Linked DNA regions of Homo sapiens: regions 1, 2 and 4 are each linked to region 3. Evidence: fine-mapped expression QTL. A gene starts in region 3. Each other region holds a variant in brackets. All regions are shown on one strand. Distances are between the middles of the regions.

Region 1 (2,691 bases), 25 kb after region 3:
ATAATTTTATGAAAAATGTGAAATTGTACTTTACCCCACAAAAATCAATTCTAATAAAATAAAATACTTATTATGAAAAGGAAAACTTGAAAACATAGAAAAATATCTATTTATCTATCTCTATCTATCTATCTATCTATCTATCTATCTATCTATCATCTATCTATCTATAATATTTTCAAATGGCACAATCATGGCTTCCTGCAGCCTGGAACTCCTGGGCTCAAGTGATCCTCTCACTTGGGCCTCTCATAGTGCTGGGATTACAGGCATGAGCCACTGTACCTAGCCAGGATAGGTCTATTAAATAAGACACATACAGTAATATGAACTAGCAGAGGAAAAAATGTATCCATTTGACATTAAAATTAAAAACTCTCTATAATGAATGGAAACCATAGAGGAACTGAAAAAGGTTAGTCACATTGTGAAAAGATATTTGTTATATATCATAAACCAAAAGTTCAGGATGGTGTGTACCTCTCAGGGTTGGGATGGGAAGCCAGTTATAATAAGGCAGGGCACTTAGGGGAGCTCTGAACACTGTTTTATTTCTTAAGCTGGGTGTCTGGTACATGAGTGTTCATTTTATTATTATTATTTTAATTGTGTATACATATTTCATACACATTATATATGATATAATTTAATTTTCTAATGAAATAAAATTTAATTCCAAATGACTTGACCAGTAAAAGAAGTGTATTAGTTTCATAATTGAAAGATCCAGTGATGAGGAAGCTTCAGATATGGTTTGATCCAGAGTCCACCCCTATGGCTAGGGAAGAGGTAATTTTCCTTCAGAGCACATAGACTGGATTGGGAAAGGATGAATACTAGAATAAAGACTCACTGAAAGAGAGAGTCTAAGCAGGAAAAGTTAAGAAATGTATAGAGCCACAAAGCATTAAACAGGTGCCAAAAATAGTTGTTAGTATTTCTCATCTTATACTCAACTTTTAAAATCCTTGTTTTTCCTGTGACTTTTGCTAACTTGGATTGCTAGCTGGAATGAAGCATTAAGATGAATAATGATTTTATTATACCCCCTAATCATTTTGTACTCATCACATTTCAACTTATGCTTTAACTTTTTGCCAAAAAGATATTTTGATACAATAATAAGCCCTCTTTTTAAGTGTGATAATGTTTGAATGTAG[T/C]GTTAAAACCTGTTAAAATACTCATTGCTGATCACTCATAAAAAGAAAAATTTGTTAAGTGACTTCTGTGCCTGTGTTCTTGTATTCCAGATGTGTCTACAGGTCATAATTATGGCCACAGTGATTTTTAATGTAATTGCAACTTTTAATTTATTTTATGTTACTTTATTATTACCTTAATTTTTCATATTTTTTCAGCTTTTGAATGTTATTCTAATATAAAACCTTTCCCAAGCTAATTAGGATGATCACAGCTTATCATTTATTCAGAATAATTATGGAATTATTTAGATAATTGTCCAATAGTTTTTAAAAATTATTCATGATTATTATTTCTTTAAGATCTCTTAAATAGATTGCGTGCTATTTAATTTTATGTTTTCTTCATGATGCAGCGTCATTAGGAATGTAGATTACTTTGTTACAATTACAATAATTTGTGATGCAAGTAGCTGTTTGCTTATGTACTTAAGGGAACTACTCTAACTGGTGAAGAGTAGGATGAAGCATCCATGTCCCTACAAAGGATATGAACTCATCCTTTTTTATGGCTGCATAGTATTCCATGGTGTATATATGCCACATTTTCTTAATCCAGTCTATCATCGATGGATATTTGGGTTGGTTCCAAGTCTTTGCTATTGTGAATAGTGTCGCAATGAACATACATGTGCATGTGTCTTTATAGCAGCATGATTTATAATCCTTTGGGTATATACCCAGTAATGGGATAGCTGGGTCAAATGGTATTTCTAGTTCTAGATCCTTGAGGAATTGCCACACTGTCTTCCACAATGGTTGAACTAGTTTACAGTCCCACCAACAGTGTAAAAGTGTTCCTATTTCTCCACATCATCTCCAGCACTTGTTGTTTCCTGACTTTTTAGTGATCCACATTCTAACTGATGTGAGATGGTACCTCATTGTGGTTTTGATTTGCATTTCTCTGATGGCCAGTGATGATGAGCATTTTTTCATGTGTCTGTTGGCTGCATAAATGTCTTTTTTTGAGAAGTGTCTGTTGATATCCTTTGACCACTTTTTGATGGGGTTGTTTTTTTCTTGTAAATTTGTTTGAGTTCTTTGTAGATTCTGGATATTAGCCCTTTGTCAAATGAGTAGATGGCAAAAATTTTCTCCCATTCTGTAGGTTGCCTGTTCACTCTGATGGTAGTTTCTTTTGCTGTGCGGAAGCTCTTTAGTTTAATTAGATCCCATTTGTCAATTTTGGCTTTTGTTGCCATTGCTTTGGTGTTTTAGACATGAAGTCCTTGCCCATGCCTATGTCCTGAATGGTAATGCCTAGGTTTTCTTCTAGGGTTTTTATGGTTTTAGGATTAACATTTAAGTCTTTAATCCATCTTGAATTAATTTTTCTACAAGGTGTAAAGAAGGGATCCAGTTTCAGCTTTCTACATATGGCTAGCCAGTTTCCCTAGCACCATTTATTAAATAGGGAATCCTTTCCCCATTTCTTGTTTTTATCAGGTTTGTCAAAGATCAGATGGTTGTAGATGTGTGGTATTATTTC
Region 2 (2,691 bases), 26 kb before region 3:
TCGAGGCATCTCTCCTTGGCATGCCGTCTTCTCCCTTTTACTTCACGTGGTCTTCCCTCTGTGCATGCCTGATTCCTAATCTCCTCTTCTTATGAGGACACCAGTCATACTGGATTAGGGCCCAACTGTATGACCTCACTTTACCTCTTTAAAGATCCTATCTCCAAATACATTCTGAGGTAGTGTGGGAGTTAGGATTTCAATGTATCAATTTTGAGGAAACACAGTTCAGCCCATAACAGATCCCAGTATCTTTTGAATTATAACTTCAATTCTTATAAACAGCAGATTCAAGAATAAAGTATGTTTAATCAAGGCACAAATGGTATTCTCGCCTACAGGACACTGATATTTCACACAGTAGTGCTGAGTTACTATTTTGATTTAACAGTGTATGACTGTACATTTGATCAATGTGAATCTGCCCCTGAGGGGTTTTTCTACTCTCAGGGGTCTCAACAAATCTGGATTTTGAGTCTGCAGGGTCCCGTGCCTGACTTTCTCAAAGTCATCATTTGTCTCTTGTTTCACTTCCCATTAGAAGAATCCACTACCAAAAGTACTGTACTAGTCTAGGTTCCCCAAGCCTGCCATAAACAAACAACACCAACACTCACCTGCTGCCACTCTATGGGGAGTACTATCTCTGAGAAACAGAAGTGAGGAAAAACATGGAAGTGAGGCAGTAGGAGAAGGGAACACAAACACAGGTGTTAGTGAGCTTGTCATAGCTTTGCAACAAGTGCAGTTAATTGCTCGGTCTTTGAGGATATTTTCATGAAGGTCTTATGAATTATTGCACTTTAGAACAGCCTATCTGGGGGAAAGGAAGGGAGAATTTATCTACTAGCTTCATTTTGTGCTGTACCTCCTTGATCAAAGTTCACTCCTTAAGTAGGGTTGCCAGATTTAGAAAAATTTTAAAAAGCCCATGCTTATAATAAAAAGTAATTTATTGTTTGTCTGCAATTCAAATTTAACTGAGAGTCCTGTATTTTACCTGACAATCCTCCTCTCAGGATATTAGCACCTAAGCATTTCCAGGCAGCAGCTGGGGAAGCCAGAACCTCCACAGACAGATCTGGTGCACAGGCACAAAGGTCAGTTACTCCTTGTCAGTGGCACAGTGTACAGGACTCCTCAACATATAGCAGTGTGGTGGTGGTGGTAGTGGCAGCAGCAGCAGAAACTCTTTAGGACAACAGGGTAGCGCTAGGCCACTGGCCAGGAGGCAAGGCATGAGGAAGAGGCAAGAGGATGTAG[G/C]CATGGCTGCATGGATGCGGGATGATAAAAAACATAATTTTCTGTAAAAATGGGTAATTATTTATTATAATATCTCTTTAGTATCCATCATAGATCACATTATACTAGATACTGGGGATTTAGTAGTAAATAAGACAAAATTTCTGCTACGGGGAGTTTACAGAATAGCTTGAATATTGTGTGTGTTCTGATTTAAAGATGCTTAATGAATGCTAGTAAAATGAAATAATGTAATAAAATAAATGTAAATGGAGGTTTTTCTAAATGACTATTTTAGTAAAAACAAACAAAACCCCTCCATAACTATCACATGTATTGCTTTCTGGATGCTTCTGAAAAGAAATAACTCAGAAAAGTATTAGAAGGCCTCCATCAAATACTAGAATTATTATTTAATGAGAAAAAAATCCACGTGTATACAACATTTCAAAACAGAAGTTAAATCATTAAATAGTACTTTTTATTTAAATGTTTATAAGGCAGATCTATGAGAATGATAGAAAACATGGTGTGTAATTTGATAGCAATATTTTGGAGATTACAGAGTTTTAGTAATTACCAATTACACAGTTAAAAAGAAGATAATATATTCCAAGCAGATACAAAATATCTAATGAAAGATCAAGGCAGGAAAATGAGTATAACTAATTGACAATGGAAAATCAATTTTAATGTGAATTGCACATTATCCTTTAAAAGCTTTCAAAAGAAAGAATTATTGCAGTCTAGTTAATTCAGACAGTGTTAAATGGTATCAGGATAAAGAACTGAAGGGCAGAAAGAATTAATTTTCACTTCATGTAACACACCCAGATTTACAATGGCTTAAATGCAGGAAAAAGCAGTGGAAGTAGGGAAGTAGTCAAGGTCTTTCTGGTCTCTAATCTGCCTTACTCTTTGGGTGTGGCTTTGATCCTCTGGAGACAGCTGCCAGGGCTCCTGTTATATCCACAATCCCAGCAGCAAGATGAAGGGATGAAAAAGGACACATGCTGCCTTCCTTTGAGGAGACTTCATCTCACTGGCCAACACTCAGTCACATGTACACCTAACTGCAAGGACAGCTGAGGAATGTAATGGGCAGCCGCTTTTAAAGAAGTAGAGTCAATAGGAAGACAAATTCCAGTTCCAGCTCAGTCTGGGTATCTGCAAAGCTGCAAAAGATCTTTAAAGACAATTTCAAGAGAATATTTCCTTAAAGTTGGCAATTTGGAGATCATACAAAAGCATCTGCTTTTGTGATTTAATTTAGCTCATCTGGCCACTGGAAGAATCCAAACAGTCTGCCTTAATTTTGGATGAATGCATGATGGAAATTCAATAATTTAGAAAGTTAAAAAAAACTCAGTATGTTAGGCTGAACAAAACATTTTTTAGTAACATATGGAAAGAATCTCTGAAAATTAAGCACTGTATAATTTTCTCATA
Region 3 (2,691 bases):
ACAAAAAGGGTTCCAAGCAGCGGGGCTGTTAAAAGGACCAGAATCTAAGTCAGGAGGTTGGGGGTGGGGGTGGGGGTGGGGCAGGAGTCTGAATTCTTTTTCTCCTATACTGATGAGCGATAATTAACTATGGCCTGGACTGTCTTTCCATCTAAAAAACTAACTGCCCGAGGAGTAAAAACTGACACCAATCCTTCTCCACGGGGTGGGAGAGATAATAAATGGAAATCTTCCAACAAAAATGCTCTTTATCTCTCTGCTCTATTTTAAGAGCAAGATTTTTAGGGCATAATTTTCAACAAGTTTTGGCTGAGGCTGAACACAGGGTTCAAAGATAATTTAGGACAGTCAAAGAAGAGGCCAATTACTTTCTAACAGAAATGGCCTAAACACCACGATTACATTACTGGGAAATAAACCAAATGACTGCTAGAAATACCTGTTCGCAAAGCAGCACTGCATGATCTTCCATGAAATGCCCTGCATCAACCCAAAGTAGCAGGGAGACTATCAAGGGGGCGAAAGTAACCTGCCTGTCCTTTCCTGCTGGGACACATCCTACCTGGGACAATGTCTCCTTGCCTTCTTTCTCCTGGGCCCAACCTCAGGACTTGCCCTTAGCTCTAGGAACCAAGAGGAGGAGGAGGGGGAATCAGTGGAACAGACACCCTTCTCCACCCTTCTCACTTTCCACCTTAAGGTGCCAGGAGATGAGGGACCCCGCAGCTCAGGGCGGACGCCCGGTGAGGGCGCAGAATCGGGGAGGATGGATGCAGCGCGTGGCGCAGACTGCATCTTGACCCTCAACTCCGCCGCCGCTACCTTCTTTCGCGCTCCTCCCCGACCCGCTCACCTCCGCGCCCCCCGCGCCCTCCACGCCGGGCAGGGGCGAGCCTTGCAGCTCCCCGGGAGCGGCGCCGACTCCCCAAGGGCCCACCCGGGGGCCAGGGCCTACGGACTGCACCTCCGACTGGCGGTTGCAGGGTGGCTGCCGCGGCGGTCGCACTCCAGCTGCTTCCCCGCCTACCCAAGCTGGATCGCGAACAGCCAGGGGAGAAGGAAGGAGGGAGGCGCGCGGAGGCCGGCTTGGCAGCGACGCGCCGCTAGGGGCTGCGTGCCCGGACAGCTCGTGGCGCCGAGGGCCCGAGGAACGCTGACTGGAGTCGGGAAGAGCCGTGGAGCGCGGGGAGGAGTCGGGGAGCTCGGAGGGGGCGGGGGTGTGTGAAGGGAGCCGGGCTGTGTGGAGGGAGCTGGGAAGGGCCCAGAGCACCGAGGGGGAGCCAGCAGTGAGTGCACTGGGGAGCTCCACACACGCGGCTCCGCAGCTTTGCGCGCCCTTCTACCGCGAGCGGCTGAGTATCCGCCTGGCTCCCCTGCGGGGTTCCTCCGTGGTCTTCCGGAGATTCTTTCTGAAGCAGCTTTAGAATAGTCAAGCCTATTTTTCTACTCCATTTCTTTTTGTAATGTGGGGTCACCTTTCCGCTCTAGAAATTGCTTTTCTTACGCGATTCCCACCCCAACTCTCGCCAAGGGCCCTGGTTCTCATCTCCCCAGTCTTAGCTTCTGACAAGCCTCCAAGAAACTGCGCTTTTTTCTTTTGTAAGTGTTCTTTTGCCTCATGTTTACCCTATCCCAAACGTCTTTTGACTAGACTGTGTCCTTGGAATAAAATGTTCGGAAATGCCCTTTCATGAAAACTCCCTCGGATAGGAGGACCCTCACAGACCCTGGACTGCAGAGATTATTCTGTTGACTTTGACCTTCACTCTAGCTGGTGCCGCGCGAGCTTTGGTGTGGGGGAAAGGAAGGTTAGGCCGTGAGTCAGGAGACCTGTGTTCCTGCGAAAGCCATTTACCTTCTGGGGCCGCAATGGCTTTGAATGTTTCAGGGGATCCCCTGAGAGCACCTTTGGCTCTGGGTTTCTGTAAATTTTCTCCCTGCGGATTACCAAGTAAAAGTACCTTTTATCTTTTGTGTAGAAGGTGTCAGTAGAAGAAGCAAGAGATCTTTATTCCCAAATATAAAATCAACTTACCAAAAATTCTCAAATTTGGGGAAATTTTTTTCATACATTAGTAAAGTACCATTTCAACAAATTAAGTTTAAAAATTATCCCTCTAGGTGGTTTATTAACCAGACCAAAAAAACCCAACAACAACAACAACGAGAGGGGGGTCTTAGATCGATCACTGGGGCACTGCACTTTCCCCTTTGTAGTCCATACACAGATTAACCTTTGTAAATGCTGCTTTGGAAATACATCCTTTGTTTGACTTGAAATGTAACCCCTCCCCTACCGCCAAATATTATTAAGGTTTAAAGTTTAGGCAGAAGCTAAGGTTTTAACGATGTGTCAGGGTGTGGAACCATCGACAGCTGGTAGAATACTTTCCATTTTGGTTACTGGAAACAAGTCATTAAATCTAATATCAATTTTAATAATTTCACTTCAACAAAACTGTCAAATAATGAGATTCGTGGAGTTTTTTCTAGTAGTTCCTCTGGAGAACTTGTGGAGAAAATTCATGAATCTTAGCAGTTAACGGAAAGTATATTGCTTTTCCATATATTTTAAAAAACTATAGAATTATATAACTTCCCCACGGGGATATTAAAAGAAATTGCACTTTCTAACTTCTATAACCATAAATTATCATGTAAAACATGTAGGTAAGCCATATATTTTAAATA
Region 4 (2,691 bases), 450 kb after region 3:
AAACATGACCTAGAGGTATGAAATGAGCATATATTTGGAGAAATGGAGCTAACAGATTTGCTTGAAGTAGGGTTGCAACAAACCTTCAATTTGTAAAAAAAAAAAAAAAAAAAAAAAAAAATGCAATATTTGTGAAATGAAAAAAAGTGAAGCACAAATAAAATGAGATATACCTGTATTTGTCCTTTGTGAAAGGCTTACTTCACTTAGTATAATGTCCTGTAGGTTCATCAAGTTGTTCCATATGACAGGATTTCCTTATTTTTTTAAGGCTGAATAATACTCTATTGTATGTTTATATCACATTTTCTTTACTTACCTGTCAGTGGATGTTTTACATTGTTTTGATATTTTGGCTATTGCGAATGATGATGTAATAAATATGGGAGTGCAGATATCTTTTCAAGATTCTGATTTCAATTATTTTTAATTTATATCTAGAAGTGAAATTGCTGGATTATATGGTATATCTGGTTTGAATTTTTTGAAAAACATCCATACAATTTTCCATATTGGCTGCTCTATTTTACACTACCACCAGCAATGTGCAAGGGGCCAATTTCACAACATCCTCACCAACACTTACTTTTTTCTTAAAAAAATAGTCATAATAACAAGTATGGGGTAGTATGTCATTATGGCTTTAATTTGCAATTCTCTGAAAATTGATTGGTGATGTTGATTACCTTTTCATATACCTGTTGGCCATTTGTATGTCTTCTTTGGAGAAATGTCTATCCAAGTTCTTTGTCCATTTATTAATCAGTTTATTTGTTTTGTGCTATTGAGCTATGAGAGTTTTATGTATTTTGGATATTAACCCCTTTTCAGAAATATGGTTTGCAAAATATATTATGAAACCACTGTAATGAAAACAGTATGGTACTGGCATAAAGGCAATATGTAGACAAATAGAACAGAATAGCTAGTTCAGAAATAGACCCACACATACATAGCCAACTATTCTGCAACAAATGTGCTAAGAATACACAATTGGGATAGGATTGTTTTTTTCAACAAATGGTATTAGAAAAACTGAATATCCACCTACAAAAGAGTAAAATTTGATCCTTATCTTACATTATACAAAAAAAAACTTAAAATAAAGATTTGAATATAAGACCTGAAATTATAAAACCGCTAATAGAAAACATAGGGGAAAATCCTCTTGACACTGTCTTGGCAATAATTTCTTGGGTCTATACCAAAAGCACAGGCAATAAAAGCAAAAATAAGGAAGTGGGATTATATCAAACTTAAATGCTTTTGCACAGCAAAGGAAACAATACAGTGAAAAAGCAATGGAAAAAAATATTTACAAACCATGTATCTGATAAGTGGTTAATACCTCGTTGTGATTTTTATTTGCATTTCCCTAATGACTAATGATGTTAAAGCATCTTTTCAGGTGCTTATTGGTCATTTGCATATTTTCTTTGGGAAAACCTCTATTCAAATCCTTTTCAAAAAAATCTCTATTCAAATCCCATTTTGTTTGAGTTATTTGT[C/T]TTTATTGTTGAGATGTAAGAGTTGTTAATATATCCTGGGTACTAGTTCCTTACCAGATATGTACTTTACAAATATCTATTCCCTTATATGGGCTGTCTTTTCACTTTCTTGATAGTGATGTTTGAATCACAAAATATTTTAATTTTATTGAAGCACAATTCACTTTTTTTTTCTTTTGTTGCTTGTGATTTTGGTGTTATGTCTAAGAAATTGTTGACAAATCAAGGTCATGAAGATTTACCTATTTTCATTTGTGAGTTTTACAGTTTTAGAAGTTGCATGTAAGTCTGCAATCTACTTTGAGTTCATTTTTGTTTATGGTGTGAGGGAGCTTTTCCAATTTTATTCTTTTATATATCAATATCCATTTGTCCCAGCACCATGTGTTAAAAAGACTCTTCTTTCTCTGTTGAATTGTCTTGGCACCCTTGTCAAAAATCAATCATAAACATAAGGATTTATTTTTGTACTCTCAATTCCATTCCATTAATCTCTATTTCTGTCTTTATGTCAATACCATATTGTTTTGATTGTTGTAGTTTTGTAGGTAGGTAACAAAATTGGGAAGGGTGAGTTCTCCAAATTTGTCCCTTTTTTTTTCAAATTGTTTTCCCTATTCTGGATTTTTCTAACTCCATATGAATTTTAGAATCAGCTTTCGGCCAGGTGTGGTGGCTCACGCCTGTAATCCCAGCACTTTGGGAGGCCAAGGCGGGTGGATCATGAAGTCAAGAGATTGAGACCGTCCTGGCCAACATGGTGAAACCCCGTCTCTACTAAAAATACAAAAATTAGCTGGGTGGTTTGTAGTCCCAGCTACTCAGGAGGCTGAGGAAGTAGAATAGCTTGAACCTAGGAGGCAGAGGTTGCAGTGATTTTGATAAAAATTACATTGAATCTGTAGATCAATTTGGGGATTATTAGTATCGTAACAATATTAAGTCTTCCAATTCACAAACACTAATAAATGATTGTTAATTTTTAAAAAGTTTTTTCAATGCTTTATCATTTTCAATGTCCGAGTCTTACACTTCCTCGATTACTTATTTCTAAGAATTCTGTTATTTTTGATGCTATTGTAAGTGCGATTGTTTATTGATTTCATTTTTAGATTGTTTATTGACAGTGCATCAAAATACAATTGATTTTTGAGAACTGACCTCATGTCCTTCAATGTTGTTG

Alleles and levels. Alleles are on the strand shown, and positions count from the first base shown. SD is a standard deviation of normalised expression in the study named. Not every link is listed here.
As copies of C replace T in region 1, the expression in stomach of the gene that starts at base 1,159 in region 3 goes down (small effect, 0.35 SD a copy in GTEx).

The links. PIP is the estimated chance that this variant, and not a neighbour inherited with it, causes the effect.
Region 1: its variant is the best candidate, but not a certain one, in a credible set for the expression of STEAP2 in stomach (GTEx, PIP 0.56).
Region 2: its variant is the best candidate, but not a certain one, in a credible set for the expression of STEAP2 in cerebellum (GTEx, PIP 0.82).
Region 4: its variant is the best candidate, but not a certain one, in a credible set for the expression of STEAP2 in putamen (GTEx, PIP 0.64).

What each region holds. Positions count from the first base shown.
Region 1 is chr7:90,185,490-90,188,180 of GRCh38, reverse strand. All of the region lies in intron 2 of STEAP2-AS1 (STEAP2 antisense RNA 1), which reads left to right. Among named protein-coding and RNA genes, the nearest start is that of STEAP2-AS1, 25 kb to the left of the region's middle. The variant T/C (reference allele first, on the strand shown) is at 1,161.
Region 2 is chr7:90,236,628-90,239,318 of GRCh38, reverse strand. STEAP2 (STEAP2 metalloreductase) reads right to left here. Exons shown (of 6, transcript NM_001244944.2): 6 at 1,636-2,691. LOC107986819 (a long non-coding RNA gene) reads left to right here. Exons shown (of 2, transcript XR_007060423.1): 2 at 1-1,732. Among named protein-coding and RNA genes, the nearest start is that of CFAP69, 7.2 kb to the left of the region's middle. The variant G/C (reference allele first, on the strand shown) is at 1,264.
Region 3 is chr7:90,210,208-90,212,898 of GRCh38, reverse strand. It overlaps STEAP2 (STEAP2 metalloreductase), which reads right to left and starts at 1,159. Exons shown (of 6, transcript NM_001244944.2): 1 at 854-1,159. It overlaps STEAP2-AS1 (STEAP2 antisense RNA 1), which reads left to right and starts at 1,264. Exons shown (of 3, transcript NR_110029.2): 1 at 1,264-1,599. RefSeq lists a silencer at 997-1,056.
Region 4 is chr7:89,764,244-89,766,934 of GRCh38, reverse strand. No RefSeq gene overlaps it. Among named protein-coding and RNA genes, the nearest start is that of STEAP1, 390 kb to the left of the region's middle. The variant C/T (reference allele first, on the strand shown) is at 1,509.